Linked DNA regions of Homo sapiens: region 2 is linked to region 1. Evidence: fine-mapped expression QTL. A gene starts in region 1. The other region holds a variant in brackets. All regions are shown on one strand. Distances are between the middles of the regions.

What was found. PIP is the estimated chance that this variant, and not a neighbour inherited with it, causes the effect. A credible set is the group of variants that fine-mapping cannot tell apart.
Region 2: its variant is the best candidate, but not a certain one, in a credible set for the expression of BAMBI in whole blood (INTERVAL, PIP 0.72).

What each region holds. Positions count from the first base shown.
Region 1 is chr10:28,675,117-28,679,504 of GRCh38, reverse strand. BAMBI (BMP and activin membrane bound inhibitor) reads right to left here and starts at 1,984. Exons shown (of 3, transcript NM_012342.3): 1 at 1,532-1,984. The coding sequence starts at 1,607. RefSeq lists silencers at 1,087-1,231, 1,957-2,516.
Region 2 is chr10:28,812,687-28,817,074 of GRCh38, reverse strand. No RefSeq gene overlaps it. Among named protein-coding and RNA genes, the nearest start is that of LINC00837, 19 kb to the right of the region's middle. The variant C/T (reference allele first, on the strand shown) is at 2,640.

The DNA.
Region 1 (4,388 bases):
ATGGACTTTTGTACCACTGTATTAAAACTATATTTCTGTCGTTCATAAAGTTTCTTCCTGTGGCATGCAAAAGGCCAGAAAGGGGACTGGTATTTTGAAACTGTGGAACAATGCCCTTCTGTTTCTGTCCCCTTCTCGTTACTGTATGTAGTGATTAAACAAAAATGTCTGCTTTAGTCAAGATGGCTACAGGAGAGACTGCTGGCTTCTTTTAAAGCTTTTGAAGTCCGCAGCCGTCAGAAATCTCTGATCCCCTAATTATATCATTATCAGGCACATAGTTTCGGTATCTGTGACTTCATGTCAGCCTCAGTCCCTCCCTGTTCTGCCCGCCTTTGATAGGGCCAGGAGGCTCCCCTCTGCAAGCCACAAGGGCTGTTATTTAGGGTTAATTACACCCTTCCTTCCAAAATAAATAAATACTGTAGCACATCATCCTCGCTGGGCTAGCTTATGCTTTAACCTCATGCCTGCTACATAGCAATTAAAGAGAAGTAGGGGGCTGCAAAGACTAAACTGCTTCCTACTTAAAAAAATTATCTGTTCACAGAACAGTAGGTAGATTTCACAGCAGGGAGGTGAGGAGAACCTTGAAATTCGGAGACAGTTCGGGTTATTTCTTTCTAAAAGGTGAAAGCCTGCAGAGGAAAGAAGAAACTGACCCGCTGCCTTTTTTTTTTTTTTGGTCCTGTTTGTAAAATATGAGGTGAGTGGCAGTGAGACGCTGACAGAGCCTACTCCTCCCGGCTGCTGAAAAGCAACACAACACACACTTCTGCACACCTCGGACACCTAAACTCTCAGGGAGACCCACACACTCGCTCGCACACAGAGAGATGTACGCAGAGACACACTCACACAGAGACTCAGATGCACATTCAGAGATACAAAGACACTTAGAGACAGACACAGAAATGCATTCAGAAAGACACACTCAAGATCAGAGATACAGAGACTCACACATTCAGAGACACAAAGACTCAGAAAGAGACACAGAAATGCATTCAGAGATACATTCAAAGAGACACAGAGATACGCTGAGTGATACAGAGGTTCAGACACACTTTCAGAAACACAACGACACTCAGAGACACAAAAATGCATTTAGGGATACTGAGACTCAGAGACACACTCACAGAAATACACCCTGAGGCACTCACACAGACACGCTGAGGGCACGCGGCAGCTACAGGCCAGGATCTGCGATTCCTCCCGGCCGCCCGAGCCCCCAGGGTGCGGAAGCGGCGGCGTCGAGGCCGAGACTCCGGCCCCGCTCCCCGCTGGGCTGCAAACGCGCCGCTCCCCGCAGGCAGAGCCAGGAGGACCCTCTGATCAGCGCCTGCCCTTAGATCGGAGTCCGCATCCACGCGCCAGGCCACCGCCGCGACTTCTAAGAACACAGCAACTTGTCGCGACCTGCGGCTCCGGCGCAGGAGGGAGCCTCGCCTGCCGCTAACAAAGCCTCTGCAGCCGGCTCCAAAGCCCCGCGGCGAGGACGGGACCCCGGGCCCCGTGCGCCCCCGGCACCCACCTTTGGTGAGCAGCACGGCCATGGCGCAGAGCTCCAGCTGCAGCCAGATGAAGATGTAGCTGGAGTGGCGATCCATTGACGCCCCGCACGGCCGCGGCGCCCCCGCCGGCTTCCGGAGCCCCGGCTCGGCGGCAGCCTACGACCCCCGGAGCGCGCAGGGCATGGGCCCTGCCCGGAGCGGCGGGCGCCGTCAGCGGCGGGGCTGGGTTTCGGGCCGCTGCCGGAGCATGGAGCGCGGCTACAGGGCGCGCCCAGGAGCCCAGAAAAGTTTCCCGGTCCCCCGTCGGCGGCCACTGGCTCCCTTGCCCCGCTCGACTCTAGGGACGCACGCTAGCCCCGGGTCGGGAGTGGGCTCCCGGCCTTCAGTCCCCGCTAGCGGCCGTTCTCAGCGAAGAGAGTAGGGTCTCCACAGCACGCAAGGGTATCCGCCGCAGCTCCCGCCCGCGCCAGCCCAGGTCTCTCCGGCTCCGCGCCGTAAATAGCGCCCCGCGCCGGGAGCCGGCCTGCACCGCCCCGCCTCGCCCCGCCCCACGGCGTCCGATTGGCCGCCGGGCTCCTGTCAATCCGCCCCGCAGCGGGGGGCGGGCCCAGACGCGAGCGCTGGGGGACCTGCCCGGCGGCTCCGAGCGGCGCCGGCGTCTGGGGCGCCCGGCTGGGGCGCCCGGCTGGTGCGCTGCCGTCTCCCGCGCTCCCCCTTGCGGAGGCCTGCGCGTCAGTGACCTTCGCGAGGCGCCGGGGGAGCCCAGCCCCGGGACCGGCTCGGGAACCCGCCTCCGAGACCCTGACGGCTCAGCCTCGGGTGGTCAGCGTTCCCCAGCGCGGGGCTTCTTTTGGGTGCCCCCCGAAACACGCAGGGGGTCCGTGTGGTCGTCCTCCCCGGCCGCACTGCGTTTTCTGGAACCCCCAGGGGCGAGTGACAATGCCCCGGCCTGTGCAGGTGGCGGAGGAGGGTTCGGGTGGGAGCCCGGGGGAGGCGGCCCAGCGCTGGGGTCTGCATTCAGCCTTCGCCCCCCACCCCCTCAGCGTGTCCGCCTCGAGCTGCCCGCCATGGGATCAATAAAGCCCAGACAGACTGACTGTTGATCCGTTAGGAGCCGCTAGGTTCTCCCGGGTACGCGGGACGAGTAGCGGGCTAGAGACACTTAACGAAAATTAGCAAATCCAAAAGCACCCGGCGCCAACGAGACGACACTGGCCGAGACTGACACTCAATTAACCACCCCCCAAACAATGGCTGGCAAACACGCCGGCTGACCCTGATCAATATCAGCCCCGCAGTGATCTCCTCCTTGAGATGCTAATTCATTTATTAGGGATCGCGGGGCTGCCCTTCCCAAGGTACTCAAGGTGGTCTTGCTGTAGTTTTGTTTCCCCCTCCGCTTTGGAAGGAATTAAGGTTAAAACTCATTATCTGAGGGAATGTTCTTTTATCCTCTCCCTCCAAAACCTGAGATGAACAAAAGTCGACCATTTGCAAAATTCTTCTTGAGAATCTGCCAGAGCTTCCCTACCGGATATGTCAAAAGGGGGTGGGGGGTGGGGAAGGAAAGAAAGAGAAGCACATTTCATGCTAAGGTGAGAATTATAAAGACAAATCCTTTAGGACTAGAGTGCAGACATGAGCTTTGAGACTAAGAAAAATGTACATATGTCTTGAGGACTGAAAGTCAAGGCGAACATATCTCAAACGCCTAACCTTTTAAAGTTGTTGAAAGTCTGCAGAGCTGCAGGATGTAGTTAATGAAATTGTCTTTGAAAAATAATGTTTATGTGCAGAAAAATAAAATAATTTCATAAACTGATGCTCAGACCATTACTTCTCTAGATCAAAATTGCATCTAAAAGGAGAGAAGGAGAAATCCAGTAGAAGTTTTAAAAGAAAATTAAACTGGTTAGGGCACCAGGTAAACAGCAGGTTTCTCAGAAAAGTTTCTCAAGGGGCGTGCTGACAAGGCAGTCCTGGGGCCGAGTTTGATTAGAACTTCCTGGCTACTAGAACCTTGACAAGTTAACAATTGTAAGGGTTTTATGCAGACAAGACTTTTTTTTTTTTTTTTTTTTTTTTTGAGACGAGTCTGGCACTGTCGCCCAGGCTGGAGTACAGTGGCGCGATCTCGGCTCACTGCAACCTTCCGCCTCCCGGGTTCAAGCCATTCTCCTGCCTCAGCCTCCTGAGTAGCTGGGATTACAGGCACCTGTCTCCACGCCTGGCTAATTTCTGTATTTTTATAGAGACGAGGTTTCGCCATGTTGGTCAGGCTGCTCTCGAACTTCCGACCTCGTGATCCGCCCGCCTCGGCCTCCCAAAGTGCTGGGATTTACAGGCGTGAGCCACCGCGCCCAGAGGACAATACTTTTTATGTAATGATTACACTCTCTTTTAGAGTCAATTATTAGCTAAAAGGAAACTTTCAGGGTATGTTAGTTCAACCTGGCCTCCCACCGTAGGCGAGGCTTGCAATGTCTGGGGGTATAAAGATGTCAGAAACTAGATAGTAAATCTCAAAACAATGGAGCTGGACAATAATGGAGATTTATGTGCATGATGTTACAATGCCTAAAAGAAAGAGGTTAACTAGTCTAGGAAGGTAAAGAGAGCCGGTAAAGTCTAGAAGCAATGACATTAAGGATTGGAAGAAGACCATTACAAGCACAGAGGACCACAGGACTTAGGCATGAAATATGATTGTGTAGGTGAGTAGGAGTGGTAAGCAGCGAACAGGTAGTTGGGATGACAAGCAAGTCTTTGTGATTGCAGCATAAAATGTGAAGAAGTGAACAGAGACGTATCAGAAATGAACTATACTTCCCTTTGATACAGATAAATATTTAATGGAAGAGGTCTGGGGAATGTGTT
Region 2 (4,388 bases), 140 kb before region 1:
TCCTGAGTAGCTGGGATTGCATGCGCCACCACGCCTGGCTAATTTTTTGTATTTTTGTAGAAACGGGATTTCACCATGTTGGCCAGGCCGGTCTCAAACTCCTGATCTCAAGTGATGAGGCTGAGGTGAGTGGATCACTATAGGTCTACCTTAGTCTTTACAGGTCTACCTTAGTCTCTCTCTCTCGTTTTTTTTTTTTTTTTTTTTTTTTTTTTTTTGGTTCACTCAGGTTGGAGTGCAGTGGCGCAATCTCAGCTCACTGCAACCTCTGCCTCCAAGTTTAAGCGATTATCCTACCTCAGCCTCCCAAGTAGCTGGGATTACAGGCACACACCACCATGTCCAGCTAATTTTTTGTGTTTTTGTAGAGATGGGGTTTCACCATGTTGACCAGGCTGTTCTCAAACTCTTGACCTCAAGTAATCTGCCCACTTCGGCCTCCCAAAGTGCTGGGATTACAGGCGTGAGCCACCGTGCCCAGCCACTTACCTTATTCTCTCTTACTGCTGCATAATGCTATGTAGTATTGGAAATATCACAATTTGTTTCCCTAATGATGGACATTTAAATTGAAAATTTTTTGCAATTATGAACAATGCTGCATTGAAAATCTTTACCCATGCCTCTTTCAACCTGTATAACTTTGTACATGTGCAAAGAATTCTCTTGGACAGAAATACAGAAGTGATGATGCAAAGAAAATAGGTATTTTTACTTTTAATAAACACTGCCAAATCAATCTTCAAAAGGCTATTACCAATGCATACTCCCCCAAAATGGAATGCAACAGAATTTTTTTGAATTGCCCAGCTAATGGGTGAAAAATAATCGATCTTCCTTACTTTTGCGAGGTGACAGCGTGCTGGCAGTCCTCACAGCTCTCGGCGCCTCCTCTGCCTGGGCTCCCACTTTGGTGGCACTTGAGGAGCCCTTCAGCCCAGCGCTGCACTATGGGAGCCCCTTTCTGGGCTGGCCAAGGCCAGAGCCGGCTCCCTCAGCTTGCAAGAGAGGTGTGGAGGGAGAGGCGCGAGCAGGAACCGGGGCTGCGCGCCGCGCTTGCGAGCCAGCTGGAGTTCCGGGTGAGCGTGGGCTTGGCGGGCCCCGCACTCCGAGCAGCCGGCCGGTCCTAACGGCCCTGGGCAGTGAGGGACTTGGCACCCGGGCCAGCGGTTGCGGAGGGTGTACTGGGTCCCCCAGCAGTGCCGGCCCACCGGCGCTGCGGTGGATTTCTCGCCGGGCCTTAGCTGCCTTCCTGCGGGGCAGGCCTCGGGACTGCAGCCCGCCATCCCTGAGCCTTCCCCCGCCTCCGTGGGCTCTTGTGCAGCCCGAGCCTCCCCGACGAGCGCCACTCCCTGCTCCACGGCGCCCAGTCCCATCGACCACCCAAGGGCTGAGGAGTGCGAGCGCATGGTGCTGGACTGGCAGGCAGCTCCACCTGCAGCCCCTGTGCGGGATCCACTGGGTGAAGCCAGCTGGGCTCCTGAGTCTGATGGGGCTGTGGAGAACCTTTATGTCTAGCTGAGGGTTTGTAAACGCACCAATCAGCACCCTGTTAAAACAGGCCACTCGGCTCTACCAATCAGCAGGATGTGGGTGGGGCCAGATAAGAGAATAAAAGCAGGCAGCCCGACCCAGCAGTGGCAACCCGCTTGGGCCCTCTTCCACACTGTGGAGGTTTTGTTCTTTTCTCTTTGCAGTTAAATCTTGCTACTGCTCACTCTTTGGGTCCACGCTACTTTTATGAGCTGTAACACTCACCAGGAAGATCTGCAGCTTCACTCCTGAAGCCAGCGAGACCATGAGCCCACCAGGAGGAACGAACAACTGCAGATATGCCGCCTTAAAAGCTGTAACACTCACCGGGAAGGTCTGCAGCTTCACTCCTGAGCCAGCGAGACCACGAACCCACCAGAAGGAAGAAACTCCGAACACATCCGAACGTCAGAAGGAACAAACTCCAGACGCGCCACCTTAAGACTTGTAACACTCACCGTGAGGGTCCAAGGCTTCATTCTTGAAGTCAGTGAGACCAAGAAACAACCAATTCCGGACACACTTTGATCTGTGTTCACTGTTTTACTAACGAGATTAAGAATGTTTTCACATGTAGATTGATTTAAGTGAATCACTTGACTGTTTCCATTTTTATCCATCTTTCTGCCTTTTTTCCTTTTTTTACTTGTATGAGCTCCTGACCTATTATGAATAATAATCTCTATTAACCATGTAGCTTGCAAATATTTTATCCAGAACTGTTGATCATATTTTATTTATATCACTGCATTAAACCTCAATTTTTTTTTCTTGCGATGGAGTCTCACTATGTCACCCAGGCTGGGGTGCGGTGGCGTGATCTCGGCTCACTGCAACCTCTGCCTCACGGGTTCAAGTGAGTCTCATGTTTCGGCCTCCCGAGTAGCTGGGATTACAGGCGTGCGCCACCACACCAGCTAATTTTTGTATTTTTGATAGAGACAGGGTTTCACCATGTTGGTCAGGCTGGTCTCGAACTCCTGACCTTGTGATCCACTTGCCTTGACCTCCCAAAGTGCTGAGATTACAGGCGTAAGCCACCCTGCCCAGCTCAAATTTTTATTGTTGGCAAAAAATTCAAATTTTAAAAGTGGTGCCAATCTTTT[C/T]TATTGGCCAGGTGAGTTGGCTTATAATCCCAGCTCTTTGGAAGGATAAGGCAGGAGGATCACTTGAGGCCAGAAGTTTGACACCAGCCTGAGTAACATAGTAAGACCCCGTCTCTACCAAAAAGATAAAAAATAAAAGTTTTAATTAGCCAGATGTGGTGGTGTATGCCTATAGTTCCAGCTACTTGGGAGGATGAAGCAGGAGGACTGGCTGAGCCCAGGAGTTGGAGGCTGCAGTGAGCTATGATCATACCACTGTACTCCCACCTGGGTGACAAAGTGAGACCCTGTCTCTAGAAAAAAAAGAAATTTAAATCTATTTTATTAATCTGTGTATTTTCCATTCTATATAAACTAGCAGATCAGCTTGTCAAATTTCATAAAATATCCCTGTTATGGTCTGAATGTGGCCCCCCAAAGTTCATGTGTTGGAAATTTAAAGCCCAGTGCAACAATGTTGAGAGATGAGACCTTTAAGAGGTGATTAGGTCAGGAGGGCACTACATAAATGAATTAATGAAGTTATTGCAGGAGTGGGTTAGTTATCTCAAGAGTGGATTCCTGATAAAAGAATACATTTGGATCACCTTCCCTGTCTTACTCTAGCCCTCTCTCTTGTCCTATCAACTCCTGCCATGGGATGATGCAGCACCAAGGCTCTCACCAAATGCTGGCACCATGCTCTTGGACTTCCCAGCCTCCAGAACTATGAGCCAAACAAATTTCTGCTTATTATAAATTACCCAGTCTGTGGTGTTGTTATAGCAACATAAAATGGACTAAAACAATCCCTTTGTAATTTTTCATGAGGTTGCATTGAATTAATAGATGATTTAGAAAAAAATTGACACTTTCACAATTTTTATTCTTACCATCCAAAAACATGATATGTGTGCTCATTCCACTTTTCTTTTGTCTTCCAATAAAATTTTATGTGTTTCTTTACATTAGGTTTATGTCTAGAATTTTTCTCCCCACAGGTTTGAAATGAACTTTAATTAGCTTTTGTCTCCAGAATTCCCCATCGATGCCTGGGCTTTAGGGTTCTCCTCACCCCCTCCAATTTGAAGGTCCAGACTGGAAAGAAGAGACACAAGAGGGGACAGAAGATTACCTAGCACAAAGTTGCAGGGGGGTTGTCTCCCTGGCAAGAGATCCCAGGGCCCAATGCCTCTCCAGCCCAGCCACAAGTACTCAGAGTGTCAGAACATATTTTTGTAATGAGAAGCGTGGGCCCTGCCTCTCCCCACTCATGGAGCAGGTGGGTGTCCTGCAGCCTTGGGGGTCACTTCAGTGGGGCAGTGGGCGTGGGCCCAGCAGAGGCACTGACAGCGAGAAGTGGCCAAAAAGAGGGTTGCACACCACCATCTCCCTGTTCGGGGCCACGCCTGGACACCTGTACACCATAAAGTCACTGCTTTCATTCTCATCTGCAGAGTCCAGCTCCTCAGGAGGCTCTTTCTGCAGCTCCAGCTGTAGTATCTGTTAACCTCTGGTGCTGGTAGTGATACATTTGCACGCTGGGCACCAGCTGCTGCTTGCAGGCTGTGTGGAGGCAGAGGAAGAGTCAATTATTTTACCACCTAACTAAAATCCTTCCTTCCTTCCTTGCTTGCTTCCTTCCTCCCTCCCTTCCTCCTTCCCTCCTTTCTCCCTTTCGTTCTCTTTCTTTCTTTCTTTCTTTCAATTCTTTTACCACCATAACTAAATTACTTTTTCTTTCTTTTTCTCTTTCTTTTCTTTTCTTTT